Homo sapiens: one gene and its partners. The protein of the gene in region 3 interacts with the protein of the main gene of each other region in a pairwise test. Each region holds a gene or a part of one and is shown on either strand. Other genes may lie near its edges.

Evidence for each region.
Region 1: the proteins of TVP23B (region 3) and ABHD6 interact in binary tests that used the Homo sapiens proteins (3 or more experiments, as listed by UniProt).
Region 2: the proteins of TVP23B (region 3) and YIPF1 interact in binary tests that used the Homo sapiens proteins (3 or more experiments, as listed by UniProt).

What each region holds. Positions count from the first base shown.
Region 1 is NC_000003.12:58,230,891-58,242,502, forward strand, and holds the start of ABHD6 (monoacylglycerol lipase ABHD6), read left to right. Parts: upstream 1-6,901; 5' UTR 6,902-7,026; intron 7,027-11,612. UniProt on the Homo sapiens protein: Lipase that preferentially hydrolysis medium-chain saturated monoacylglycerols including 2-arachidonoylglycerol. Through 2-arachidonoylglycerol degradation may regulate endocannabinoid signaling pathways.
Region 2 is NC_000001.11:53,851,798-53,858,797, forward strand, and holds part of YIPF1 (protein YIPF1), read right to left. Parts: intron 3,255-7,000; exon of another isoform or gene 3,204-3,254; intron 474-3,203; 3' UTR 1-473.
Region 3 is NC_000017.11:18,789,524-18,800,473, forward strand, and holds part of TVP23B (Golgi apparatus membrane protein TVP23 homolog B), read left to right. Parts: intron 1-1,372; coding exon 1,373-1,517; intron 1,518-8,055; coding exon 8,056-8,145; intron 8,146-9,288; coding exon 9,289-9,420; intron 9,421-10,950.

The DNA of each region.
Region 1 (11,612 bases), on a different chromosome or scaffold from region 3:
AAGCAGTTTTGAATCTCAATTTTCTTCCTAGCTTTGTTTAATTTAAAATTTAATGAGAAGTCTGAATTTGTGTTCATCTCAATTAAAAAAAAATTTCAAGGAGAGAGAACTACAGCATTTTATTAGAAAATTGCTTCCAGGCAGGACATGGTGGCTCAGGGCTGTAATCCCAGTACTTTGGGAAGCTGAGGGAGGAGGATGGCTTGAGGCCAGCAGCTCAAGACCAGCCTGGGCAACATAATGAGATGAAAGAAAGAGAGAAAGAGAGAGAAAGAGAGGAAGGAAGGAAGGAAGGAAGGAAGGAAGGAAGGAAGGAAGGAAGGAAGGAAAAAAAATTGCTTTCAGTCTCATTTTGTCAGATTAAACAAAATTGGGCCACTGTTGTTTAACCTTCTATGACTTCACCAAACTGATATTTCGAAGTCTAAATTACTTCATCTTCTCCATAAACAGATTATAAAATGCTTTGTCCAAAGCCTACTACAGTCAAGATTCTGTATGCAATTTCCTGCAACAGTCTCCAGGTCTATTTATGCTAGTAACTGTGAAATATTATTCCTTTGGTGTGATCATTCACAGGGAACCCAAATGAGCTCTTGTACTTAACCTCTTTTGTTTTAGTTTAATAATCAGGTGCAGAACTTTGCTAAAAATCAACACCATACCTCTTGGTCTCGAGATCTGTTTATCAGTCTTTCTCCTTTATTTGAAATGGGACTCTCACTCGTTAAAATCTTCTAGCATAATTTATCAAAGATCACTGAATATGTTTCTTAAGATCAGATCTAAATATCCTTTTAGTATCTTGGGCAGTAATTTCTCTTGATCTGGTAATTTGAACTAATTTAAATTTTTGTGTGCTCTTTCTCCATCTTTTCTTCCTATCCTGAGCTCAGTTTCCCTCTTTGTGATATTTTCACCTGATCAAATCTTTTTCCATGATCAAGATGATGTAATATAGGAAACCGGTAGTTTGGCTTTCCCTCTGCCATCTGTTAACATTCCATATGCTCCGTTCCTTTTGCATTCATCATTTTTATCCTAATTTGGTTTTACATTAACCTTTTCCTGTCTTTAGCAGTGGAGTCCCAATCATTCTGGGTGTTAGTATCCCTCACCTCTTATTAAAGGTCCAGGTTAATCTTTTGGAAAATTTCCATCACCTTCTGTCTTAGTCCATTTTATGTTGCTATAAAGGAATACCTGAGATTGAGTAATTATTAAGAAATAAGGTTAGGCTGGGCACGGTGGCTCACGTCTGTAATCCCAACACTTTGGGAGTCTGAGGCAGGAGGATCACCTGCGGTCAGAAGTTCGAGACCAGCCTGGCCAACATGGTAAAACCCTGTCTCTACTAAAAACACAAAAATTAGCTGGGTGTGGTGGCATGTGCCTGTAATCCCAGCTACTCGGGAGGCTGAGACAGGAGCATTGCTTGAACCCAGGAGGCATAGGTTGCATTGAGCCAAGATTGTGCCACTGCACTCCAGCCTGGGCAACAGAGCAAGATGCTGTCAAAAAGAAAGAAGGAAAGAAAGAGAGAGAGAGAAAGAAAGAGAGAGAGAGAGAAAGAAAGAAAGAAAGAAAGAGAAAGAAAGAAAGAAAGAAAGAAAGAAAGAAAGAAAGAAAGAAAGAAAGAAAAAGAAAAGAAAGAAAGAGGGAAAGAAAGAAATGTAGGTTTATTTGGCTCATAATTCTGCTGGCTGGAAGGATCAAGACTGGCCATGTGATGAGGGCCTCAGTATGCTTCCTCTCATAGTGGACATAGAAGCAGAGCATGCAAGTGTAGAGATCACACGGTAGAAGAGGAAGCAAGAGAGAGTAGGGAGTTGCCAGGCTCTTTTTATATACCAACCAGCTCTCACGGGAAATAATAGCTTACTCACTACCCCATCCTGTCAAAGGGCATTCATCTATTCATGAGGGATCTGTCCCCATGCCCCAAGCACCTTCCATTAGGCTCCACTTCCAACAATGGAGATCAAATTTCTACATGAGATTTGGTGAGGTTCAACAAACCATATTCAAACTACAGCATCTTCCCACTTCTTTTCAGGTGCTTGGCAAGCCTGAGCTTATCAGAGTGCTGCAGGTGCAGTGACACTGATCTCTCAAAGTCCTCCCTTTCCTTCCCATCCAGGACACTCTCTGGCCTAGTGCTATGCTCAACTGGCATTTTCAGTGAATGAATCAATATAGTAGGAATTACAGTCTTAGAACTTCCTGATTAGTGAGTCCTTTCTATGATTATATACTACATATGACATGTGTTGACATATGTTGACTTGTTGTCTTGTGATATGTTCTTATTACTTAACTCTTGCACTGATGTTCTTTTTTTCAGGTGTATATAATTTAGACTGTTCTCCTTAAAGGAAGGGGTAAAATTGTATCTACCATAGCTTGGGTCCTATGCATAAGTAAATGCTTGTAAACATTTAATTCACAAATAAATGAATAAGCAATATTTTAAGGCATTTGGAAAGAAATATTTTTAGCCTAAAAAAGTTATTACTTCATAAAATGCTCAGTACAAGCTTTTTAAGGTGAGATTTTGTTGTATTCTTCTTATTTAATTCCATTACTTGTCATGGCAGCAGGTGGCTGAATGGTTAGAATATAGATTTTGTGCTCAGACATACAAAACTTTGTTTGAATTCTGGCAGTATCGTTGACTAGCTGTGTGACCTTGGTGATATGGTTTGGATGCTTGTCCCCTCCAAATCTCATGTTGAAACGTGATTCCCAGTATGGGGGTGGGCCTAATGGGGGTGTTTGGGTCATGAAGGCAGGTCCCTCATGAATAGATTAATGCCCTTTGGTAGGTAGGGGTGGTGGGTGAGTTCTCATTCTATTATTTCCCAGAAGAGCTGGTTGTTACTAAGAGTCTGGCAGGTGACTGGATCACAGGAGCAGACGCCTCATGAACGGCTTAGCATCATCCCCTTGGTGATGAGTGAGTTCTCAGTCTGGCAGTTCACATGTGATCTGATTGTTTAAAAGAGCGTGGCACCTCCTTTCTTACTCTCTTTTGCCCTCACTGTCTCTTGCTCCTGCTCCCTCTTGCTCCCACTGTCTTGCCTGGTGACACACTGGCTCCCCTTTACCTTCCACTGTGATTGTAAGCTTCCTGAGGCCCTCATGAGAGGCAGATGCTGGCACTATGTACAGCCTGCAGAACTGTGAGCCAATTAAACCTCTTTCCTTAATAAATTACCCAGTCTTGGTTATTTCTTTACAGCAATGCAAAAACAGACTAAGAGGCCAACATGGGGAAATCTTGTCTCTACTAAAAATACAAAAATTAGCTGGGTGTGGTGGCAAATGCCTGTAATCCCAGCTACTCAGGAGGCTGAGGCAGGAGAATTGCTTGAACCTGGGGAAGTGGAAGTTGCAGTAAGCCGTGATCGTGCCGCTGCACTCCAGCCTGGGCGACAGAGTGAGTGAGACTCTCTCAAAACACACACACACACAGACTAAGATATTTGGATAGGTGATTTAACACATTTGGGTAGATTTGAGGCTCAGAAACTCTCTGAGCCTCAAAATGTTCCTCATTTGTAAAATAGGGCTAATAACAGAGTGGTTGGGAGGAATCCATGAGATAATGCTTGTAAAGCACTGAGCACAAGGTGAGGAACACAGGAAAAGCTCAACACATGGTAGCTAATTAACATTTGCCTGTTCTGTGCTACTCATCATGCTTTTCCCTGGGGAGATGGAAGTGGAAAAGGAATTCACAACTCCGTGGAGTTGAGAGTTGCCTAAATAAATAAACATATCGTCATGTATAATGTGCTACAGGGGTGTGGACGATGGAAAAATTAATTTTGCCTGGATAGTCAGGTAAGGCTGCTGGGAGGCAGTGATACTGGAGTTCCAGATTGGGCAGAGGCCTCAGGGATTGGCTCAGAGTTGTCACACAGCAAATGCTTGGGGAATAGATGGTACGAATGACTCATAAGCTCAGGGGTGCTGCCCAGCTGGTGTCTGTGTACACATGGTATCTTGTGTTTTTTGCTTTTCTCCTGCACACATTTCCATGTGCTGACATGGCTTTTGTGTGATTCCCTCACAGCTTGTGTGTGATTCCCTGATTAAATAGCTTCTAATATTTTATTATTATAAATAGACTCTAAGTCCTTGAGGGCAAGAAGTGTGTCTCTGTTCATCCAGACAGTACCTAGTATGTAGTAGGTTCTCAGTAATGTTTGCTACATAAATGAATGAGTGAACTCCTTTGACCGCTGGCCCTGCCATAAGCTGGCTGTGGGATCTTGAGTGAGTCCATTAACCCCTCTGTACCTCGGTGTGTCTGTAAAGTGGGTTAGTATAACTCACAGGTGAGCATATTTCACTATGTGTTGTGAGGACTAAGTGATTTGATGCCCTGCGGCTGAAGGTAGTAAGTGCGCATTAAATAATGGCATCCTTCAGCTCTGATAGCTGTGCTGCTGCATCCAGGAGACATGTACAGGCTTCATGGCAGAGTGAATCCTGGAGTGTTCTGCTGCAACTGCTGGCAGAGGAAAGGTTTCAAAACTCTTTCTTAATGCTAGGGTGAGACCTGTCCACTGATAAGGAGTTTCTATTTGGGATGACTAAAGGTGCCATCTGGAAAGTACCAGGCCCCTGGGACTGCTCCCTGGTCTCCCACCTAGGTGGGATTCCTCAGTGACAGCACTCAGGGGTATCACCGGCTCAGGGAGGGGCCGGAGGTGAGTTCCCTTATCTCCTCTTGCCTCCTTCACTGTAAAACTGGAGCTAATAAGGTTTCTCTCCTGTCAGCCATCCAGTGGAGATAAGTCACCCAGAATGTGACTCCCACATGGGGCTCAAAAAGGTGTTTCTAAATATAAAACTCTGAGGGAAAAAAACCCTCGGGATATAGAAATTCCAGGCCCTTGGAGACGCCCAGGGTCACAGGCTGTGAGTTAAATAAAAAACCCACCAAACTGATGAACTACCCATTTTTAAGGTTTTGGAGAGGGAAAATTAAAAGACTAAGGAGCAATTGTTTTAAACTTTATACCAGGTGTATTGATGGCTTCTAGGCTGGGGCCTTCCAGGAAGTCATTCATCAATTTCATTGTCTATTTATTCACCCCCTGGACTCCTGTTTTGGTGAATGTTCCTGAGTCCAAGATGCTAATCCAATAGGTGGCCAGTAGTGACTGAAGGACATTTAATCCCCACATTTTGTGCTATCTCTGTGGACCTGCTCTGGGGATGTTGGTGGACTGCTGGCTTGGAAAGGTTCTGCTTCAGCCGTAAGGAGAGATAAAGCCAGAGAGGTGGGACTGAGCAACCCGCTGTTTGGTGAATAAATTGCCACTGAAACTCGGGGGCCATTCCCTGAAGTGAATCACATGCAGCCATTGAAGTCTAAGTGATAAGGCAGCCAACAATTTAAAGGAAAATGCTCCAGCCCAAGCCAGGGGGACTGTCCCAAACTCCGGATGAATTCCAGCTGCCCTGCAGAGCAGGGTTTACAGGCATGGGGATCACTAGTGGCTTCAGAGATGCCCCTTTGCCACTTCTCCGGGACTTCTTGACTGTGTCCTATTCTTAAAACCCAGGACCTGCACCACTCAGCCAGGCTCCACCAGCGTGGAGGCCTTGGCAGGCTGAGGCCCAAAGGCTGCCTTTGTGGGGGATTTAAACGGCCAAGAGAGTCTTGCTGAGCCCTGGCCCCTTGACGTCTGGAGTGGCAGGCCAAGCACTCAGTGCAGCAGGAAGATCTGGGTGCCACTAAGGCCCCTAACAGGTGTAGTAAATATCTGTTAAATGAACGAATACATGTTTTGATGAAAGAAGCCCACAGTGCAGTGTGAGCCCAAAGGGGTCTTACTGAAGGCTTCCTGGAGGAAGTGGCAGCTAAACTGAGACATGGAAAACACGGAAGAGTAGCCAGGCCAAGCTGGGGTTTAACTGTCCCTAAAAGAAAGAAACGACCATAGCAGGGGTTTAACCAGAGGTGGCCGAAGGCCTTTCCAGGTGCCCATTTCTCCCGTATAGCTTTGGAGTCAGACGATCCTCGGTTGGAATTCCCAGTTCAGTCCTTACAGTCTGACGTCCCGCACAACCCGACGCCGGCAACTGTCTCCAAACACCCGAGAGCCAGGGCGGGAGCATGAGCGCCTACGGTGTTCCTTGGGGTGGAGCCCTCGCAGTGTCCAGAGGATTTGGGGGCTCCTGCGCCCCCATTTCTCCCATTTCCTGGACTATCCAGGGCAAGCCCCTCACCTCCCTGAGCCTCGGTGTCTTCTGAGAAAAGAAGTCGACCCCAGTGCCTACCTCATAGGATTACGTGAGACAACCGATGTCAAGCAGTGTTGCTTTGCTGCCTGAGAACCCCTGCCTGTCCCTTTCTCTCTGATGCCCTTCGGGGCAGAGATCCAGAGATCCTGCCTGAGTCACTTTGGCGGGTTTAATGCCCAGCCGCGCCAGGCACACAGTAGGTGCTCAGTAAGTGAAACAGTGCCGGGAAGAATTCGGGCCGGGGATGTGGAACTGTGTGTGGCTCTGCGGGCTCAGAGGCCCTCCCCGCGCCCCGCCACCGTGTGCGTTCCGGGGCGGGGCGGGGCGGGGGCGGGGGCGGGGGCGGGGGCGGGACCGGGCGCTCGGGCTCCGCCCCCGGTACCTCTGTAGGCGATCCTGCTCTCGCCGTGGCTTTCGGGTGCTAGGAGACAGTTGCCGGCGTTGGGTTGTGCGAGACGCTAACTGTACCCTCCGGGTTTAACGCTGTGAGGCAGCGCGCGGAGGAACTGGGGATAAGCGCCCCGGAGCCCCCAAACAGAGCGCGGCCGCTGGGGGACAGCGCGCGGCGCCGGGTCGGGGCGGGGCGGCTTTTCTGTCGGAGGACGCGAACCGGCACGCTGCGCCTTTAAGGAGTCCAGCTGGGCTGGGCGCCGGAGCTGGGAGCGGCGCGGGTAGGAGCCCGGCGGCAGGTCCCAGCCCGGGGCTAGAGACCGAGGGCCGGGGTCCGGGCCCGGCGGCGGGACCCAGGCGGTTGAGGCTGGTCAGGTGAGCGGAGGCGGGCGGGCGGGCGGTGGTGCGCTCCTAGGGGGATGGGGCGCCCTGATGGCCCCGTGACCTCTCCCCCAGTGTCTCCCTGCAGCGGCGCATCGAGTGGAAAGAGTCGGCGATCTGCACTTGCCTTTCCACTCCGCTCCCCGCGCGGGCGCTGCCCCCACCTCCCGCTGCCTGGATAGGTTTGAGATGCCCGAAACCCGGCGCCCCATTTCCTGGGTCCAGCCAGCCTCTTGAAGCCGGGGGACAGAGTGAGGACGGGTCGGGACCTGCACCCTCTTTCTACTTCGCCTCCCCACCCCCTGCGCCCGCAGCAGCCCTTAGGCGCCCCTCGCAGTGCCGAGAGGATTTTGGGGTCCTGCAGCCCTGTTTCCCCCATTTCCTGGAGAAGGACTGCAGCTCGCCCACCCAGATAGCATCTTGCTCCGTGTCACGCGCCGCCTCCGCGCCGTCCCCAAGATCTCGCTCCGCTACTCCCCTCCCCCAGCAGCCTTTCAGCTTCCCTTTCCCCAGCCTGCCCCGGCTCCCGTGCCCTTGCGCCCCTTCCGTGTCGAAACACTTGAATCAGGATGCTGTCCAGCCAGGTACCCGCCGGCAACTTGCGGTCCCCCGCCTACAGCGACACAGGTTTCACGGCTGCCTTAGAAATGCGGATTGTGTAACGCCGGCTGCAGGGCAGTGCACGTGCAGGGTTTGCGCCCCTGAGCCCACAGCGAGGCCAGGTGACAGAGTGAGGCATGGGGGAGTGGGGGAAGAGGAGGATGCCAGAGGGTCTAGATACTGTGCATGCAGAGAATATGTATTTTGAGCCCTTTGTATGCCCCAGGAGCTGGGTGGTTAGGAAGAGGAAATAAAGTGGGGGTCTTACTCCAGCTGGGACCTGGAGGCCCTCATTTATCTCGCCGCCCCCCTCCCCGCTGCTCCCGCCTGCTCAGAAATCCCTAGTGGCTCCACCTGGCTAAGAGTTTAAAGTAGTTTATAATGAATAATAGCTGACATAGAATAAGCAAATCTTGTGTGCCAGGCCCTGTCCTAAGCCCCTTAAAAGAATTACCTGCCATACTTTCCCCAACAGCCCCTTGAGGTAGGTACCACCGCTGTGCCCATTCCTGAGAGCAGGAATATGAGGCTTCCAGAGGTGGTACCTTCCCAAGACACGAAGTGAGTCTGGCCTCAGAACCACCCCCTTCCCCCAACCGCCCCCCCAACCCGACCTCGAACCACTAGACTTTTTACCCAATTTCAACAAATTCTTATCAAGAACATTGTTATAATATAGGAAATTAGAAATAACAGAAATTAATCACCTGTGTTTCTAGCACTAATTTGTTTTTCTCAGACCAGCAAGGGCCTCTCAGCTTCTGGTAATAGTACCCACTTTAAAGGGTAGTGGCAATATTTAGATAAAATAATGCACAGGGCCCAGCATGTTTTAAGCACTCAGAAAGCAGCAGCTGTTATTATGAAGAGTGGTAGTTGACCACTACCTTGAATTACTGGAAAAAAATAATTAATAAATGGCTCACACTGACTCTACAGAAATTAACCATTTTGTGTGCTCAGAAAGGCCTATGAGACTTTCTCTATTTTCATCTTTTTATTATTTTTATTATTTTGCCTTTTCGACACATTCTGTGGCTTTCGTCAACTCCAAATTATCCATTGTCTTTGTAGTTAGAGACAGAAGTGCCCTTCTGGTTTTTTTAGCTTTTAAAATGTGTGACCTTTGATTCTGTGAGCATCTGCAAACCTAGAGTAAAAGATGGGAATGCAGTTTGTGCAACTGGGAAGTAATTCTGAAACTTGATATGAGAAAAAAATTGTCCTTAGAGGTGATCCTGGTTTGCAGTATGCGTTGGGTGAGGTCTATCCTGGGGGCGAGAAGTTAGACTCAAAGATTATCTTTGGGTTTGGAGGGAAGAAAGGCAAGCATGAATGTTTTGTCTCGGTGTGGTGGGCTCACACCTCAAAGTGGCCAGCACTTTGAGAGGCCAAGGCAAGAGGATCACCTGAACCCAGGAGTTCAAGACTAGCCTGGGCAACATGGTGAAACCCCATCTCTACCAAAAAAAAAAAAAAATTAGCTGGGAGTGGTGTTGCGTACCTGTAGTCCCGGCTACTTGGGAGGCTGGGGTGGGAGGATTGCTTGAGCCTGGGAGGTCAAGGCTGCAGTGAGCTGAGATTGCTCCACTGCACTCCAGCCTAGGTGAAAAAGTAAGACCCAGTCTCAAAAAATAAAATAAATAAATAAAGAATGAGTGTTTATCCTAGTAGGCTAGCTAAGATTGGAAATCAGCTTCACTATGTCATATTCTTTAAAAAAATTTTTTTTTTTAGAGATGAAGTCTCACTGTGTTTCCTACTCAGGCTGACCTGGAACTCTTGGGCTCAAGTGATTCTCCCACCTCAGCCTCCCAAGTAGCTAGAACTACAGGTGTGCACCACCACACCTGGCATGCTATGTCATACTTTTTATGAAACTCCTGGTTATTTTGGTGATTAGATCAATTATTACCGTGATGAGTGTTCAAAAGAAAAGAGGCAAGACATCCCCATCAAAGCTAAATATTTGGAAGATGCCAGGAAGCTAGTTCTGCAAGTTGAAAAAAAATTCTTTAAAAATTTCTCCTATTTGAGTCTTAAAAAAATTTTTTTTTTAAGGGACAGGGTCTCACTCTGTTACCCATGCTGGAGTGCAGTGGAGCAATCTTAGCTCACTGTAACTTTGAACTCCTGGGCTCAAGCAATCCTGCTACCTCAGCCTCCTAAGTAACTGGGGCTACAGGTGTGCACCACCAAACCTGGGTAATTTTTTTTTTTTTTTTTGAGACGGAGTCTTGCTCTGTCGCCCAGGCTGGAGTGCAGTAGCGCGATCTCGGCTCACCGCAACCTCCGCCTCCCGGGTTCAAGCAATTCTCCTGCCTCAGCCTCCAGAGTAGCTGGGATTACAGGCATGCACAAGCACGCCTGGCTAATTTTGTATTTTTAGTAGAGACGGGGTTTCTCCATGTTGGTCAGGCTGGTCTCGAACTCCCGACCTCAGGTGATCTGCCCGCCTCTACCTCCCAAAGTGCTGGGATTGCAGATGTGAGCCACCGCGCCCGGCCAAACCTGGATAATTTTGAAATTTTGTTGTTGTTGTTGGTTGTCACAACTTGTAGGTAACATCAAGTGGGTAGAGGCCAGGGATGCTGCTAAACGTCCTACGATGCACAGGACGGTGCCACAACAAAGAATTATATGGCCTCCAGTGTCACTTGTGCCACAGTTGAGAAACTGAAACTGGATATGATTTTCACAACATTAAAGTCCTTTCTGACCTTGCATGTAGTTGCCTCTTCCAAGAAGATCAAAGTATTCTCCTAAACCGGACCCTCAGAAACCCTCTGGATCCTATTTGACGCTTCCCAATCCTAGAGGCCACTTGGGGTGTTGCTGCCTGTGGCTGGATGGGTTTGGGGTCTGTCATGAGCTTCTGTGCGGCTCTCTGGTGCTGTACCAAGGAAACTGCTGATTCAGGGGAGCAGGACAGCACTCAGGAGGTGTGGGCAGAGGTTCTTACACTGCTGCAGGTTGGGATCCTCTTCTTTTTAAGTAATATATTAACAGCAGCCTTTGCTCTTAGGCATTTTTCCAGAAGCTGTGGCTGTTTGGCTGTTGGCATTGGGTGTTTGCCTTGTGATATACCCAGAAAAGGATTCATACGTTACATATGATGAAGTCTGGGGATGGGACTGGATTCTGAGAGTATAAAGATGGCAATGCAGACCCTGCCCAGAGACTACTCAGGCATCTCAATAGGCCTGAGCAGTGGCCATGCAGGGTGGTGGAGGTATGGCAGGGCTGCCTAACTCTGCCTGTGAAGTCAGGCAAGATCCCAGCAGTGCAGAGTGAATGCTTAGTATCTGCCTGTCACTGCTTTGAACAGTTTCCTTGCATCATCCCATTTCATCCCCACACTGAGGTAGAATTCTAAGAGGTTAGGTCACTTGCTACAGTCACATGGCAAGCATGTGACCAGAGCAGAGTCACAGTGGTCAATGGCAGAGCAGAGATTTGAACCCAGGTTGTTGAGCTGCAAAACTGAACTGTCAGGAGCATTTACAGAGAGCGGCAGTGCTTTAATAGCTAAGACTTTTAGGATGGGCTGGAGCTCGCCAGGCGAGAGGGAGAATAGGCGTGCCGGGGAGAGAGGAGCAGGTGTGTCAAAGTCCCGGAGGTGTGGGAGAGCACGGCATGTCTGGGGGTTGCAGATCATTATTGGAAGGGATGGAGGGCAGGCAATAGGCAGGTGATAGAAGAAGATGACCCTTGAGAGATGGGCAGCACCAAATCCTAAGTGGCCTTCAACATCATGCTGAGAGCCACTGCCAACCACCAGTGAATTAGCAGAGAGGAAGAGAAAGCTGTGTGACATTGAGCAGCTTGCTTAATTTCTCTAGGACCCAGCTGCCCATCCAAACTAAAACCTCTAAAACTATACTGCTCTGACGAATGTTTCTTTCATTTGTGGCCATATGAGCAGAGTGAAGGAATGCCTGCATTGACACTGGTGGGGCAGCCCTGTTGATTCATGACTT
Region 2 (7,000 bases), on a different chromosome or scaffold from region 3:
ATTTTCAAGCTCCCGGTTAATCCCCACCAAAGTTTCTACTGTTCGGCTACTTCAGGATGGCTAACATTTGGAGAGAAGAGGATCCCCCAGGTAGTCTGTACATAATTCAGAGAGAGGACATCAGAATTTTCCATGGTTCTATTTCAGGTATTAAGGTACCACAGTGAAGCATGTCATTTGACTGTGGTGGCAAAGGGACGGCACTGAGCATGCCTAACCTATTCCCTGGCATTTCAGTCCAATCAGCGCATGCTCGCAATGATCATCCATGGGTGAAAAGGAAGAGCTGAAAGACACATGTGCTGAGCAACATTTAATTTCTGCTTGTTAAACGGGTGATTAGGCGCCAGTGTGGCACCATCCAGACACTGGGAATTTGTGCCACTCCATCAGTTCTGCTGGCTCTGCTCATTCTGCTTTCCTGCAGTGGATGCCACTTCCCAAAGAACCATGCTCCAAAAAACAAAAGAGAACTGAAAAACAAAACGGGAAACTTTCAAGATAAAGCACCCCCCCACCCCGACAGGAAAGAGCTACATTGTAGAAAAGGATATTCATGTATGTTTAGAGATATAACTCCCAACACCGGAGCAGTCTGCTGCCACCAATTCCCTAAATCTTGAGGCTTGAGTCTAATTTTGATGCTAAAAGTAGAGCTTAGTGTTGGAAGAAAGATGATGCTTTAAAAAGTTTTCTTCTATTTGCTTGGAAACCCAGTGACCCTTTCCAAGCCAGATCCTAAAGCTACCTTTGCCCATCCTTCTCTCTTTCTCTTCTCCGTGACAGCACTGTGTTAAGCACTAGAGGAGAAAAGATAAGAGTGGATATGGAGGGACTTAAAGATCTGGGACCTGGAAAACCGTGGTAATTGAAATGTAAGGTTATACAGGAGATAATGGCAGGATATGAGGCAGGACAAATAAATCAGGGATAGATTGTGGCAATGCAGGGGGTTTCAATTTTGTTATTTGGGCAATAGGGGGCCAAAAAAAAAAAGTTTCTAAGTAGGGAAGTGACATAGTTAAAGGCGTGGTCAGAATTATAAATTTTCAAAGACCCCTGTGGCTGTGTATAGGATGAATTGGAAGGAGAAAAAGAAAAGAAGTGGAGAAAGCCATCATGTTACTGCTGCAGTTCAAATATGAAATGATCGGTCCTGAACACTGGGTATGGTAACAACAGGACAGAGATGAAAAATACTTCAGAGATAGAAAAGACAGGTCTTGCTGACTGATACTATGTGGAAGGTGAGTGGGGGGAATCTACAATCTACCTTGATGCTGAGGTTTCTATCTTGGGTGACTGGATGGATTTCTTAATTAATCCAACAAATATTGAGGACCCATGTGCCAGGTACTGGGGACAGTGATGAACAAGACAGACATGGTCCCAACTGTCAAGGAACCAGTCTACCAAGAGAAGCAACAGGGCAAACAAATACAGAAAATATTATTTATTTAATTATAATCTTAACTTGCCAGGCGAGGGTGTAATAAAGAATCTAACCTACTCTGCAGTCAGGGACAGTATAAATGATGGTGCCATTCCCTGAGACAGGAAAACATGAGGAGGATCTGGTTGTAGTGGGGGATGAGTATAGCTTGGAATGTAATGAATTTGAGGCAACTGTTGGTATACCTACCTGGGGATTTGCAAGACAGGGAAACTTGGAAAGAGGGGCTGGAGATAGAGTTAAATCCAGGGAAGACTAAGGAATATGGTGGAGAATAAGTTCCTAATGCATAGCCTTCCACTTGGGAGAATGAGCTAGGCCTTCCTGGAGACATCAACAGGACAATACCACATTCAGATGTCAGCGTTTGATGATACCACGAAGGTGAGGCTAAGGCAAGGGCTAACTGCCCAAGTCTACTGGCTCAAGAAAAGAGAAACATTGCCAACAAAATATCTGTGAAAAGTGGCTGGAGAAAGCCAGATGCTGTAATTTGCTGGCATGAAAGAACCTAAAGCCCTGATCAGCCTTTTAGTAACCATCAACTTGGGTTCTGAAACGCTAAATAAAGGTAGGGACAAACGGGCCCACAGAGCAAGCACTCAAGATTTTATATTCATAAATATATACTCTGTTTTTCTCTCCTCTTTCTAGCTGTCTGTTCCAAATCAATGTCAAGACTAGGGAAGAATATGAAGACTAGAAAATTCCCTTCTCAGGTAGGCATGGTGACTCATGCCTGTAATCCCAGCACTTTGGGAGGCTGAGGTGGGCAGATCACTTGAGGCCAGGAGTTAGAGGCCAGCCTGGCCAACATGGCAAAACCCCATCTCTACCAAAAATACAGAAAAATTAGCCAGGCATGATGATGCATTCCTGTAATCCCAGCTACTCGGGAGGCTGAGGTATGAGAATCACTTGAACCCGGGAGGTGGAGGTTGCAATGAGCCGAGATTGCACCACTGTCCTCCAGCTTGGGCAACAGAGTGAGACTCTGTCTGAAAAAAAAGAAAAAAAAAAATTCCTTCTCCTGCTGCCAACTTTTAATGGGTGGCCAGAAGCGAAGAGGTTGGGAATTCTTGGCACTTAGGCCAGAGGGAGAAAAGTAAGATGCTGTTGCCCTTTGTGCCAAAGTTGGTCCCTAATGTCACCATCAGCCAGCACTTCCTTACCTCTTGAAGATTGCCTCTACCACCTCTTGGCCTATGACCTGACTCCTGACCATTTTTGGCTCCCCATCTTGGGTGGCTGCACTATCGCATGGGCATTCTCTGTCCCTTTCCTTGCCTCAGCCCTGCAGCCAAACCTTCCAATGTCACCACAGTCTGATCTGGGATGTTCCAATGAGAAGTTCCCATAATCATGTTTCTCTCTTTAATGTAAAAGGGCCTTCTAGTCTGTGTGGCGTATGAGATGTAAAACTGGAGTATAGAATCTGGGAGGGTAAGGACTGATCTCCGTTGTTCACCAGCACAGAGTAGAACTTCAATGAATGAACAAGTAAAGATTTCCCAAGTAACCTGCCACATAAATCCAGGAAAGTTTTGATGCTATATGATTGGCCTAACAACTTGTTCAAATGAAGCTTTCTCCAAGTGTCTGCTGGGTGCTAGGGAGCTATATTGGTAAATAAAGCTCTGCCCTCAAGGAACTCTCAGTCTATGAAGTTACAGTGAATAAGCAAACTGCCATAATAGAAGAACATACGAGAGCTGTAGAAGAGCACAGAAAAGAAAATAAGTAATACTACCTGGAGAAGTCAAGAAAAACTTCAGCAAGGAGAGGGTATCTCAAGTGAGTCCTGAAAAATAAACAGGAAATTGCCAAGTAGACAAGGCTTGTGAAATGAACACTCTTGACAATGTGAGCGAGTGACAGGATAACTGCATACAAACCCTGTGTATCCAATCAGGAGGATTTAATGACAAAGGACTCTCCAGAAGCCCTCTCTGCATCATTAATTAAAGCCCTGATCACACTGCGATATGATTATCTGCTGATGGCCCTCCTCCGGACAGCCCCACCTGTCACTGCCCCTGGAAAGCTCACCCCAATCTGGATGCGGTCTCAAGCCCTCAAGCCAAAGCAGGGCTTCCCAGGTACAGTTTCCAGGCTCTACCAGGGTCTTGGCTCAGAGAAGACATAGCACTGCCCTCATGTGAAAAGTTAATGAAGAAGGAAGGATGGAAGCCAGATATTCTTTATATTATTTCAATAACTTACATAGGGGTAGCATGCTGATTACAAGTACAGTCCCACACTGCATAATGATGTTTCAGTTGACAACAGACCACGTATACAATGGTGGTCCCATGAGATCACACCATATTTTTACTGTACCTTTTCTATGTTTAGGTACACAAATATTTACGATTGGGTTACATCTGCCTGCTGTATTCAGTATAGCAACATGCCACACAGGTTTGTAGCCTAGGAGCAATAGGCTATCCCACATAAGTGTGTTGTAAGCTATACCATCTAGGTTTGTTTAAGTATATTCTATGATATTGGCACAATGATGAAACTGCCTAATGACGCATGTCTCAGAATGCATCCCATCATTAAGCAATGCATGACTGTAACTGGAAGCTCCCCTATGATCCTGAGGTTCCAGGGAGAGAAGGGGTTCTCCCTGGAATGTGTTCTAAGCTAAGCCTTCCAATGCTCTCCTGGGAATGCGCTCTAGGCTAAGTTTTCCAATACACAGATTTACATGGGGAAGGTAGGTTACTGGTGAGATTAGAAGCCTTTATTTTTCAGTGAAAGCTGGGAGTCCAGAGATGACAGTAGAAGGCACAGCCAGCTCGTAAATCAGCAGCATTCAGGGCTCTGGACAGCCTCTCTATCAGCAAAGCAATTGATGCTTCTGCCAGGGAGGCTGCAAAGAAGCTGTTCATCACTACCTCATTTGGAGACTTGACACCCAAATGGAGGCTCTAACAGCCAAGTTCATAGATCTGAGCAAAGCGCAGAGGCGTCAAATCTGTGTACACCAGTCTGCTAAGTCTTCAAGGGCCCTGAGGGGCAGGCTCTTCTCAGATGCTGCTCTGACTCTCTGAAGGCCTTTACAACCAAAATGAAATGAAATAACTTAAGTCCTAGCTCAGGGGCAGGTTGAGAGAGACCCTCAACATGGCGATGTCAGGTACTTTGGGCCAAAAGAGAGACCCAGGAAACTGTTGCCATTGTGTTCTCTACCTCTGTCCCTCTCCAGCTGGGCTCGAATTGTCTCGTTCTCAGTGATGTGAGTCCACATCGTCTTATCATGGTTCCCCTGTACAGCCTAGGTCTTCATCTTCCCAAAAGCCATGGGAAGCAGACTACTTTTTCCAGAACAGCTAACTGACTGTGCTCAACCTTTATGACCCAGTTCAAACAAGAGCCCCTCTCTGAAGCTTCCCTCCAGGCCAACTCCAACTGAGTCCCTCCCTTCTTGGCCCCATAATGCTAAACTGACAACTTGGCTATGGCATTTAAAGCTTTAATAGTTCCTATATGGATTGACAACAGTATATGCAAATACTTCAAATATATACGTATCACAAGTTTGTGCTTGTGACTGAGAATCTAAAATGGCCTCCAGTGATCCCTGCCTGTCTCCAGGCATTCATGCCCTTGTGTAATTGCCTCCCCTAGAAGGTAGGCAAGACCTGTGACTTGCTTCTAGTCAATAGAAGATGGTAAAGGTGATGACCATCTCTCCTATGTTTACATTATATAGGACAGCAACTTCCATCTCACTATCAGACTCGATTGCCTCTCTCTCCCTTTATGGCTTTGATGAAGTGAGTGATCATACAGAGAGGCCCACGTGGCAAGCAACTGAGGGTGGTCTCCAAATGACCGTCAGCAAGAAGGCCCTCATTCTACGAAGCCACAGGAATTGAATCCTGCCAACAACCTTGTGAGTTGGGAGGCAGATCTTTTCCCAGTCTAGACTTCAGGTGAGACACCAGCCCTGGCCAATGTTTTGACTGCAGCCTTGAGAGAGAATCTGAAGTAGAGGAGCAAGCTAAGCTATCCCCACAGTCCTGCCCCACAGAAACTGTGAGAATGTGTATTGTGGTAATACCACTGGGCAGCAATAGATAATTAATACAGCACGCAAACTCTCAGCTGATAAGACATGCAATCAAAGGAGTGTGGAGACTGCTACTAAACACCTCTAGACCCGCAGAGGAAGGCTCCATCAAACAGCCAAAGGCTAGCAGTGAGAACCTGCACGTTTTAGTGGTAAAAAGAACATTTGTCTAAAAAATGGGAAAGTGAAAAACCTCAAAAATTGGCTTCCCAAGACTTAGATATGAGTCCCAGCTCTGCCTCTAAGAGGTAGGTGATCTTAGTCAGCCCAGATTTACTCAGCCCAGCCTTCTCATCTATACATACAATGTGGTCAAGAGGGCCAGTAAGAGTGGCCAATGAGAGAATAAACTAGGAAATGTTTTGTCAGGCCGGGCGCGATGGCTCACACCTATAATCCCAGCACTGTGGGAGGCCAAGGTGGGTGGCTCACAAGGTCAGGAGTTCGAGACCAGCCTGGCCAACATAGTGAAACCCTATCTCTATTAAAAATACAAAACATTAGCCAGGTGTGGTGACGGGCACCTGTAATCTCAGCTACTTGGGAGGCTGAGGCAGGAGAATCTCTTGAACCCGGGAGGCAGAGGTTGCAGTGGGCCAAGATTGCGCCACTGCACTCCAGCCTGGGCGACAGAGTGAGACTCCACCTCAAAAAAAAAAAAAAAAAAAAGTGTTTTGTCAAATGGAATGTGATAGACACATGTTAGTTTGCCCCAGAACTCTGGGGTGGCCTTGGGTAAGGCACTGTCCTCTCTCGGTCTCAGCTTCCTTATTGTAAAATGAGGAGGGAAGCCCATGCTATTTAATGTCTCCAAGGGCTCTGATCTTCTTTGATTCTAACATCGCATACCCATGAGAAGAGAGGAAGAGGCGAAAGTGGTAGACTATGACATTTTACAATAGTTCCCAGTCATTCTACTGGCCAGGGTGACTGTCTTACCATTAAGGAACTGGAAAGCATTTGACCAGTCATATCTAGTCAACCTACAGGGCCTACAACCTGGATTCCTCAACTAAGAGGGAAAATCCCCATTTGTTTTACAAAAAGGAAAAAATGATCAAGGTAAAGTCAGTGGGAGCCACCAAACATAAACTACTGACGCACTCTGAGAGTGGCAGTAGCTTTGATTTTATTGCTGAGCACCTTAACTATGTGCCAGGAGCTTTTATAAAAATAATCTCCAACCTTCACTACAATCTTATATAGTTTGTGTCATTCTTATTGTAAAGACAAGTTAGCTGAAGCTCAAAGAGAGTAAGCCCCTTACCCAAGGCACATTGCTAGTACATGGTAGGGCTGGGATTTATCATTATTATTATTAGAGACAGGTTCTCTCTCTATCATCCAGGCTAGAATGCAGTGGCACAATCACAGCTCACTTTAACCTCCATCTCCCAGGCTCAAGTGATCCTCCAACCCCAGCCTCCCAACTAGTTGGGACTACAGGAGCATGCCACCATGCCAAG
Region 3 (10,950 bases):
GTTGTTTCAATGTGCTTGTGAATACTGCATGTTGCTAATTTGACGTTTAGTGTACGACAAAGATGACATTTCAGATTTTCTTGTGAATAATTGGCATACTTAATACTGAGTTTTAAAATCAGCAAATCCAATTATTTGAACACCTGTGTTTTTAATTCTGTGCTATTTTCCAAGAATGTACCATTTCTTTATATAGTTTCTATAGATACATTACATTTTGATTTATTGTGCACATTTCAAAATCACATAACATTTCTATTCTAAATTTAATTCTCTCTAAAGAAATTCACTTACTGAAAGCAAATTCTACTTGAACCCTGCTAAAATGCTGTCTTTTACTTTTCTTTCATCTTTCATGCCAGTCACAAAAGACCACATATTGTATGATTTCATTTATATGAAATGTCCAGAATAGGCAAATCTGTAGAGACAGAAGATAGATTAGCTGTTGCTAGAAGCTGAGGGGTTTGAAGGTAAATGGGGAATGACTGCCAGTGGGTACAAAGATTCTGTCTGGGGTAATGAAAAGTTGTAAAATTGGAGTGATGGTTGTACAAATCTGTGAATGTACTAAAAACCATTAGATTGTTTACCTTAAATAAGTAAATTGTATGATATGTGAATTATATCTCAAAAAAGCTATTAAAAAACAAGAAACAGGCTGGGCACGATGGCTCATGCCTGTAATCCCAGCACTTTGGGAGGCCGAGGCAGGTGGATCACGAGGTCAGGAGATTGAGATCATCCTGGCTAACATGGTGAAACCCCATCTCTACTAAAAATACAAAAAATTAGCCGGGCGTGGTGGCAGGCGCCTGTAGTCCCAGCTACTTGGGAGGCTGAGGCAGGACAATGGCGTGAACCCAGGAGGTGAAGTTTGCAGTGAGCCGAGATTGTGCCACCAAACTCCAGCCTGGGCGACGGAGCGAGACTCCGTCTCAAAAAAAAAAAAAAAAGAAAAGAAAGAAAGAAACAAACTACCTGATAACTTTGTCTTAATGTCTGAGTGATTTCTGAGGGCTAAGGAATTCTTTTGGTGTGATTTGAAAATAGGATTCAAATTCTAAGATACAGTTTCCTTATTTCTCCAAGAGAGATAAAATTCTTTATTATCTATTTTGTGAAAGTTTATATTCAATGAGGTGTTAAAGTCATCTGTGCATAGTGTATTTTCTGTAACTACAGGGCCTAGTCAAATAGTGGGGCTTAAGAAAAAGAGAGCTAGGAGGTTTGCTTCATCCTACTAAAGTCACCTCTTTTATTTTGACAAAACTCTTCACAGTTACACGATGGCTAAAACATTTTTCTCTACATTTGCTAGTACCTGTAGTAAAATGTAATTGCATTTCTTTCATTGTGTTTTGGTTTTCAGACATCCAGTAGCATCGTTTTTCCACTTATTCTTTCGAGTCAGTGCAATCATCGTCTATCTTCTCTGTGGGTTGCTCAGCAGCAGCTTTATTACCTGTATGGTGACAATTATCTTGTTGTTGTCGTGTGACTTTTGGGCAGTGAAGGTAATTTTGATTGTTTTTATTTTAAAATTATATTTAATATGAAAATGATGTATAAAAATATGAGTTAGCATTTTGCATTATTGTTAATCTTTTGTTACTTCAAACCTCATCTGTGTTGAAGTGCTAGATATATCAAATTGCATGTAGTTTTTTTTTTTTTTTTTTTTTTTTTCATTTTTTCCCTTTGACAATACAAGATGAGACATGCAGGTTACTGTGCTGCTGATTTTTCTGTGCCATATTCTAACCTACATCAGCTTTAAAGTCAAATAAACAAACAAAAGTGACTAGCAACCATAGACCCTACAATGTTGCTTCTAATCCATACCATGGGTTTTGCTTCAGGCTTACCTGTAGGTGTGTTGTATATAATTTCTAGATAAGGCCCCAGTGTAGTTTGTCCACAAATACCTAAAAAATACCTACCTTTTGAAAAGGCTCCTATGGATGCTTTAAGGCAGTGTTTCTCAACCAGAGACAAGCTTGCCACCCACTGAATATTTGTCAGTGTCCAAAAATGTTTTTGGTTGTCATGACTGGAGGTGGGAGGAGTGTGCTATTGACATCTAGTGGCTAGAGGGCAGGTATGCTGCTAAATATCCTAACACACAGGACGGCCCCTCTGCAACAAAGAACTACCTGACCCAAAATGTCAGTTGTGCCAAGGTTGAGACACCCTGCTGTAGGGGATAGAAAGAAGTGTAAGAAATGGTTTCAAACTCAAGAACAATGATTAGAGAGATGGATGGATGGATAGATAGGTACATAATAAATAGATAAGTAAGCATAATAAAATATTAAATATGGACTCTAGATGATAGATATTTGGGTATTCACTGTAAAATTTAACTGTGTGTGTTCGAAAATATAGTAAAATAGTGGAGAAAAAAATCAAAGGCTGATTTTGGAGTTTCAGAGACACATACTGATTCAAAGACTAGTAAGATGTTACAACCCTATTCACACCCACCAATGTAGCCATTTTTAGATCTTTTAATTCTTTTTTTTTTGAGACGGAGTTTCACTTTTGTTGCCCAGGCTGGAGTGCAATGGCATGATCTTGGCTCACCGCAACCTCTGCCTCCTGGGTTCAGGTGATTCTCCTGCCTCAGACTCCCGAGTAGCTGGGATTACAGGCATGCACCACCACGCCTGGCTAATTTTTTTGTATTTTTAGTACAGACGGGGTTTCTCCATGTTGGTCAGGCTGGTCTCGAACTTCTGACCTCAAGGGATCTGCCCACCTCAGCCTCCCAAAGTGCTGGGATTACAGGCGTGAGCCACTGCGCCTGGCCATCTTTTAATTCTTAAAGATACCTGAAGTGGTTGGCTTGGTGATGGCCAGTTTCCATAGGCCGCATAATGCTGAGAAGGAAGATTTCAAAGGTCTGTTTTCTTTAGGTTTTTCTGTTGTCCAGTCTTCTTTGGCTTGCATTTCTTTGAATTTCTTCTGTTACTTTATGCTCCAAAGTATTTAGTACATACTGCTCACAGTTTTGATACACGTTTCTTTTTGTTGTTCATAAAATTTCTGTTCAGCCAAATAGAACATGCTTTCCAGTCAGTTCTTCCTGGTAATTTCCAAACTCTTAAAATTTTTCTGGGTTTAGAGTTTTAAAAAATGCGATCAAAATAGTTTATTTTCTGATAAGGTTTATTTGTTTATTTTTGTTTTTAAACAAGGGCTTAAAAAATGGCACCCTTTTATCCTTGGCAAAACTACTTATAGATAGCAAAGCAATGGAGATATAAAGCAAAATTAAGAAGTCAAGAATAGGGAAATTATTAAGTGGACTTGGGATAAGCAGGGTTCTGAAACAGTTAAAATAGAGATGTGTCGTAATTGTTATAAATCTCAATGTACTTACTAAAAAAACAAAAAATCAATCTTCATCTAAACCCCTAGGTGTCCAATCTTTTGGTTTCCCTGGGCCACAGTGGAAGAAAGAATTATCTTGGGCCACACATAAAATACACTAACATTAGCTGATGAGCTTAAAAAAAAAATCGCACACAAAAAAATCTCATAATGTTTTAAGAAAGTTTACAAATTTCTCCTGGGCCGCATTCAAAGCTGTCCTGGGCAGCATGAGGCCTGTGGGCAGAGGGTTGGATAGGCTTGCCCTAGGTGATGTTAATGAAGATAAAGAAGAGGTAGAGAAGGGAAAATAATTTAAAGGTATGCTTAAATGCTAAAGCTTATATTGGTTTTTATTTTATTCTTCACTCTGACAAATTGAGTAAAAAAGGTTAAATAATGGTTTTAAAAATTTAATGGCAACTATGGCTGGGCGCGGTGGCTCACACCTATAATCCCAGCACTTTGGGAGGCTGAGGCGGGTGGATCATGAGGTCAGGAGATCGAGACCATCCTGGCTAACATGGTGAAACCCCATCTCTGCTAAAAAAAAAAAAAAAAAAAAAATGAGCCGGGCGTGGTGGCAGGTGCCTGTAGTCCCAGCTATTCAGGAGGCTGAGGCAGGAGGCGGAGCTTGCAGTGAGCCGAGATTGCGCCACTGCACTCTAGCCTGGGCAACAGAGCAAGACTCCATCTCAAAAAAAAAAAAAAAAATAATGGCAACTATTAGTAAAATTTAAAACCAGTCGTGTATCTTCTGCAACATTGGAGAAGATGGAGCAAGTAAAACAGTTCATAGAGCAAAAGAAGGAAAACAAAGCAACTGTCAAGGAAGCTTAAATCAGAAAGTACATGTATAAAGTGATGTAAGTAATAGCAAATTCATTATAATAGGAAATGTAATTTGATTAAACTACCCATTTAAAGACAAGAATACTAAGATTGGTCAGAAATCAAAGTCCAAACAAAAGATCTAACAACATTAATGACATTAGAAAAAATAAAAGAAGGCAAAGATAACATCAGATCAACTCAAACAAAAAGAAACTTGGCATTGTATTATTATCAGATGAGATATGGATCAGAGTAAGAAAGCACTAAGAGGAACAGAAAAAGGTGATTTTATGAATCACAGTGAAGATCATTCACAGAGTAAAATTATATCAAACTATGTATAGTAAAAAAATTGGAAATATTAGAAAATAGAAAAGCATTATGATGAGTTTAACAAACTACTATCTTTAACAAACCAAAGTGCCAAAAAATAAATAAGTTCTGAAGGATCTGAATGAAATAATTGGCAACATCAATTTGATAGCAGTATTTGGGACTTTGTATGACAGAATACTTTCTTGTTAAATGCCTGTGGGGCATTTACAAAAATTGACTAAATATCACTGTGAAGAAAATCAAAATAAAATTGCCCAAAGCACCTACATTTTCTACTCCAATGAAACAGAACTAGAAATTAATAGAAAGTAGTTGTCGAAATTGGAATTCTTTTTAAAAAGCGAACTACTACATATCTTGGGTTTAAAAGGAAGCAAAAACTGTAAATATAGGTTATTTATACCTTAATGGTGATCATTTACAGTTAAACTTTCTGAATATGTCAAAAACTGAATTCAGAGGGAAAATAATAGACTAAAGCCTTTTATTTTAGACAAGAAAGAGGGAAAATAATGGACTACTTGAGTCCAGAAATTTCAAAAACAAGCAATAAGCGTGAGAAATCAGGAAAATAAACTAATAAAGATAAAAGCAGGAAATAAAGAGTTAGAAAATGGGAACACAGAAGAGTTTGAAAGTATTCTGAGAGCATTCTTTGAAAATACCTATAGAAGAGACCTCTGGTTTAGGTCTCCCTTGCCAGCTCTTTTTTTTTTTTTTACTTAGCATCTCTCCCATAGGAATTTTGGTCTCATAAGACTCTTCCTTTTCTTCTCCTGTATTCCCTTCCTAAGGAGTGCCGTTTATGCTTCTGGTTTTAATTGCTGATCTGTAAGCTGTGTTGCCTCCCAGATCTGTATCTCCATTCAGGTTTGTCCTCACAACTCAAGGCCTCTCCATGTGTCTTCTTGACGTTTTTATGTGGCTGTCTTGAAGGCATCTCAAATCTTTTTTTTTTTTTTTTTTTTTTTTTTTGAGACAAAATCTTGCTTTGTCACCCAAGCTGGAATGCAGTGGTGTGATCTCGGCTCACTGCAACCTCTGCCTCCTGGGGTTCAAGCCATTCTCCTGCCTCACCCTCCTAGATAGCTGAGACTACAGGCATGCACCACCATGCCTAGCGAATTTTTGTATTTTTAGTAGAGTCAGGGTTTCACTATGTTAGCCAGGCTGGTCTTGAACCCAAGTGAGCCACCATGCCTGGCCAGGCAACTTATATCTTAACATGTGTAAAATACTACTTGTCATCTTCCACTCCCCAAAAGCTCTTCTTCTTTGAGTGTTCCCTTTCGTGGGGCCTGGAATCACTATTTTTTTACTTGAGCAAACCAGAAATGTATCAGTTGCCTCCTTCCTACTCCATATCCAATTAATGACCAAGTCCCATAAATCCATAGATTGTACTTTCTTCATTAGGGCATCAGTGCCTGCTGCTCTATCTGGAATGCTCTTCTTCCTCCCACATCACCTTCATACAGGGATTCCTAATCTTTTTATGCCATGGGTCCCTTTCATAGACTCATGAATAAGTTTTCACATATATAAAGTACATAAGATTTCAAAGGAAGTCACTTATATTGAAATATAATTTAAAAATATTAGAAAAGTAAATTTCTGATTGAGTTATATGTGTAGTAGTTCCCCCATTATCTGAGGTTTCACTTTCTGCGGTTTCAGTTACTGCTATACACTACACTAAACAGTAAGATACTGTGTGAGGAGAGAGAACTACATTCACATAACTTTTATTAGATTATGTTGTTATAATTGTTCTATTTTTATTTCTTATTAATCTCTTACTGTGCATTATTTATAAATTAAGCATTATCATAGGTATGTACTTACAGGAAAAAATATAGCATATATAAGGTTTGGTATTAACCACAATTTGAGGCATCTGCTGGGGGTCTTGGAATGTATCCCCTGCAGATAAGGGAGGACTACTATACTTTATGAATTTATTAATGGTAAGATCTAGTGGCAGGTCTAATAACTACTTTCAAAGCAGTGGTGAGCGTAAACAATATGTTAAGATAACTGCAGCAAGTATAGTACAAAATGAAAAATGTCTGTGGTTTCTATTGTGTCAGGGTGTTTTTAATTTTACCTATATTCATAGTTTGTTGTCTACATTCATAATTTAATGATATGCTAACTACTTTCAAAGCAGTGGTGAGCATAAATAGTATTTTGAGGCCGTGCGTGGTGGCTTACGCCTGTAATCCCAGCACTTTGGGAGGCCAAGGCGGGTGAATCACTGAGGTTGGGAGTTCGAGACCAGCCTGACCAACATGGAGAAACCCCATCTCTACTAAAAATACAAAATTAGCTGGGCATGATGGCGCATGCCTGTAATCCCTGCTACTTGGGAGGCTGAGGCAGGAGAATCGTTTGAACCCGGGAGGCAGAGGTTGCGGTGAGCTGAGATCGCCCCGTTGCATGCCAGCCTGGGCAACAAGAGCGAAACTCTGTCTCAAAAACAAAAAACAAAACCAAACAAAAAACAAAACTACAATATTTTGAGGTAACTGCAGCAAATATAGTACAAAATAAAAAAATGCCTGTGATTTCTATTGTGTCAGGGTGTTTTTAATTTTACCTACATTCATAGTTTGTTGTCTACATTCATAATTTAAAGATATGCTAAATTTTAGCCAGAGGTTAATGAAAATGAAGGTAACATTTTTTTTTAACCCATCGAGGTTCACAGAACCACTGAATCTATTAGTGGACACCATTAATTAAACATCCATGGTACTGTTGATTCTTATTTATCTTTTATATTTCATTCCAAATGTTGACTCCTCAGAGAGTCATTTTCTGATACCCAGACTAGATCCAATTTCCCTGTTATACTCTTCAAGCATCTCACACTTTTCCCTTGCAGGACTTAACTCAGTTGGTAATGGTACATTTGTGCATTGGTTGTCTGCCTCTCTTCACCTCTTTCCCTGAGGAAGGAGTTGGTATCTGTTAGTCACTGTTGTATTACCAGCACATAGTAGATGCTCAGTAAATATTTGTTGAGTAAATAAAGATTAGGAAAGCTATCAAACTAATTTATTACCTTAGTAAGTAGGAAAAGAGCTTGGTAACTTGAGAGACTGACTGAAGGCCAGTGTCTATAATCATTTTCAGGGATATGTAGTTGTAAAATACATGTAGCTATAGTCAGGATGTAAAGTAGGTCACAGTAACCAAATAGCAAGGGGTTTAGGGAAAATTAGGGAACTGGAGAAAGGGCAAATTGTTCATGAGGGAAAAGAGAAGGTGTAATGTTTATGGGTGGACTTGTTGCTTGCTCTGTCACCTCTACCCCTATTAGTCCTGCCATTACCATTTTACTTAATCACTTAGCCAGGCCTGATACATAGTAGTCTTTGCTAACTGGATATTATGGAGGTAAAGCTGAAGGTTTTTGTTTGTGAAATGTTACACTAAGATAGGAGCTTGTGATAGATCTTTAAATAATGCTTTTAAAATGTGCCTGTTTATATTAATCTTCACCAGAATGTCACAGGTAGACTAATGGTTGGCCTACGTTGGTGGAATCACATTGATGAAGATGGAAAGAGCCATTGGGTGTTTGAATCTAGAAAGGTAAAGTGCCTTTTTTGTTTTAAATAATGTTATCAGCTAAATTATTTGTAGACTATATTTAAATACTGGAAGATGAAGTATTCAGAATTAAAAACACTATACCAAATCACTTGGCATGTCAGCACTAAAGGAGATGGCCTTCTAGAATTTAATGCATTTTTCTGTCTAGTTCAGACCAGAAACAAGCAATATACAGAACAGAATCCTTTGAGGGAAGACACTGGGTCTGAGTTCATACAGTGTGCTAAGCTGCCTGTCAGGGATTGCTGATAAAAGATCTCTGTGTTGCCTTTGTTAGTGTCTCCATAAATCCCTCTATGCTCAGCAGATAACTGCTTTTAACATCTTGTTCTGTCTTTGCTCCTGTGGTCGTCTTTCATTTCTGGGCAGGAAAAAGGAGGAGGAGTGCAGCTGGATAGAATATCTGATCGGAGCACTCTATTCCTAAGCTTCTGCCTTCAGGAGCCCTGGGGATCCTGGTCTGTTTTGGGTTAGCCTGCTACACTATAGTGAATATTCACTTTCCTTGTGGAAATAAGTTTTGGAAGCAGAGGACCAAATTCTTGGCGACAGTACACCAAGGGTATTGACAAGTTATTTTAAGAAAGTGGCACTGTGTTCAATGAGCCTGTATTCTTTTATATTATAGAATCTACCTTGGAAACAACTTACCACCCTTGTAACTTCCTGGGTATTGCTAAGACATTTTGATTATTGTCCAGAATCCCTTGATTCCGTTTTTTTTTTTTCCTCTGGACCCTAATTTGACCTTTTAGTCTCCAGAATGATTATAACTGTGATTTCCTTGATCATTGGTAGGAAAGGTATCATTTAGAGCTTCCTTATGAATAAATAGTACAAGTGCAAGAAGAATTGAATAGAATCCTATCAGAGACCACTCTTTACTGTCATGAGTTGTGGTAAACCATCCATCCTGCCCTGAAAATGCAAAATTCTTGAGTTAATATAGATCAGTTCCTAAAATTACAAGAGTGATAGTCATGTATTTTTGGGTTCTAACTTAGGAGTTGGGCTGTGTGTATTAATATTTGAACTTGTGGGTAATATGTTTTTTATTAAACATGTTGAACTTTTTATTGATAAATTTCACAACATGATAATTGAATTTATGTTCTTTTATAGGAGTCCTCTCAAGAGAATAAAACTGTGTCAGAGGCTGAATCAAGAATCTTTTGGTTGGGACTTATTGCCTGTCCAGTACTGTGGGTGATATTTGCTTTTAGTGCACTCTTCTCCTTCAGAGTAAAGTGGTTGGTGAGTATCAGTGTAGAACTTTCAAATAATCCATTAAGATGTCTGATGGTAATCATAGGAAGCAACAACTACAACTGAGTCCTTATCATTAGGGACCTATCTTGAATAGGCAGCTTCATCATGTAATTCCCAAGTTTTGCTTCCCAACTTTACCTTTCTCTATAATACTGGAGAAGAGATCCTAAAAAACCCCTTCCCACCAGTTTTCTAGATTATTAGTGGTCTTTTCTGGAAATAATGGTTGGTAACCTATTGCTGCCTAACAAATCACTCCAAAACATAGTGGCTTAGAGCAACAACAGCCATTATCTCACAGTTTCTATGGGTCAGGATCTTGGGAAGGGCTCTGCTGGGAGATTCTGGCTTGGGGTCTTGAGTAGTTGTAGTCAGACAGTAGTTGGAATGATGGGGGTTGTGAGCCATCTCCTCTTCATGAGGTCCCATGGCCTCTCCACATGTTTTTCCCTGTGCCTTCGTTTGGGCTTCTTCATGGCATGGTGGCCTCATGGTGGTGGGACTGCTTACGTGGCAGCCCAGTACTTCACTTGTGGGGTGTTCTAGCTCGCAAGCTTTTACAATCTAGCTAAGATGTCATAGCATCGCTTCTGCTGCCCACTCACATTCAAGGAAATGGGAATTAGGCTCTGCTCTTGATAAGGAATAAGAAGGTGCTAGAAGACTTTGTGGAAGAGGAGATATTGTTGCTGCTGTCTTTGGAAAATATAGTTTGTCACTTGACCCAATTTGTGAGTCTTACTCTTTTTTATATCTCATATTATTTTTTCTTATTCTATCTTATATCTGATATGAATAAATATTGTGTGAATTTTCACACAATATTTATTGATATCAGATATATTTTGGCCTTAATTATGTTTTTCCTCCTAATTTGTAGTATTTTCTTAGTCCTATTTTGCGATATAGATTCTTTTTTTCTTTGTGTGTGCTCATACATTCATACTTTCCTTCTTTGGATTTGGAAGCTTATTGGAAGCTTATTGTCTTTTTTCAGTTCTTCTGGTAGTTACCTTTAATTACTTTATATGTTTATATCATTACCCTCTTTCATGAATTAGGAAATTTATTCAGTATTTATGGAGTTCCTGCTCTGGAAAATGGGAAACTTTACGCTAATATGGTTTCTTTAACTTCTCCCTCCTCCTACCTCTAGAGTTTTGCTTATTATAGTCTTATTTTAGTCCTTCTAGTGGTTTTCTTTGTAACATTAATTAATGTACTTAAACCTGTTTATTGACTTAATAGACTCTGTTTAGAAAGGGAAGAAAATAAACACTCATATTCCTTCCTATGAGTTTCCTCCTTTCTCTCTTGTTTGTTCCAATGTTATTTTTGTGTTACCAAGTTTTATAATAGTTATCTTTTGAAAACATATTTCTTACTGGTTGTTTAGTCTTTGATCTGTTTTTTAAAAAAGTCGATTCATTGCCTATCACCAGTCTTACTGCAGCTTCTCCTTTTACTTATTGGTTGGCTACATTTTCTTTTGACTCATGTTTAAACATATGAGCC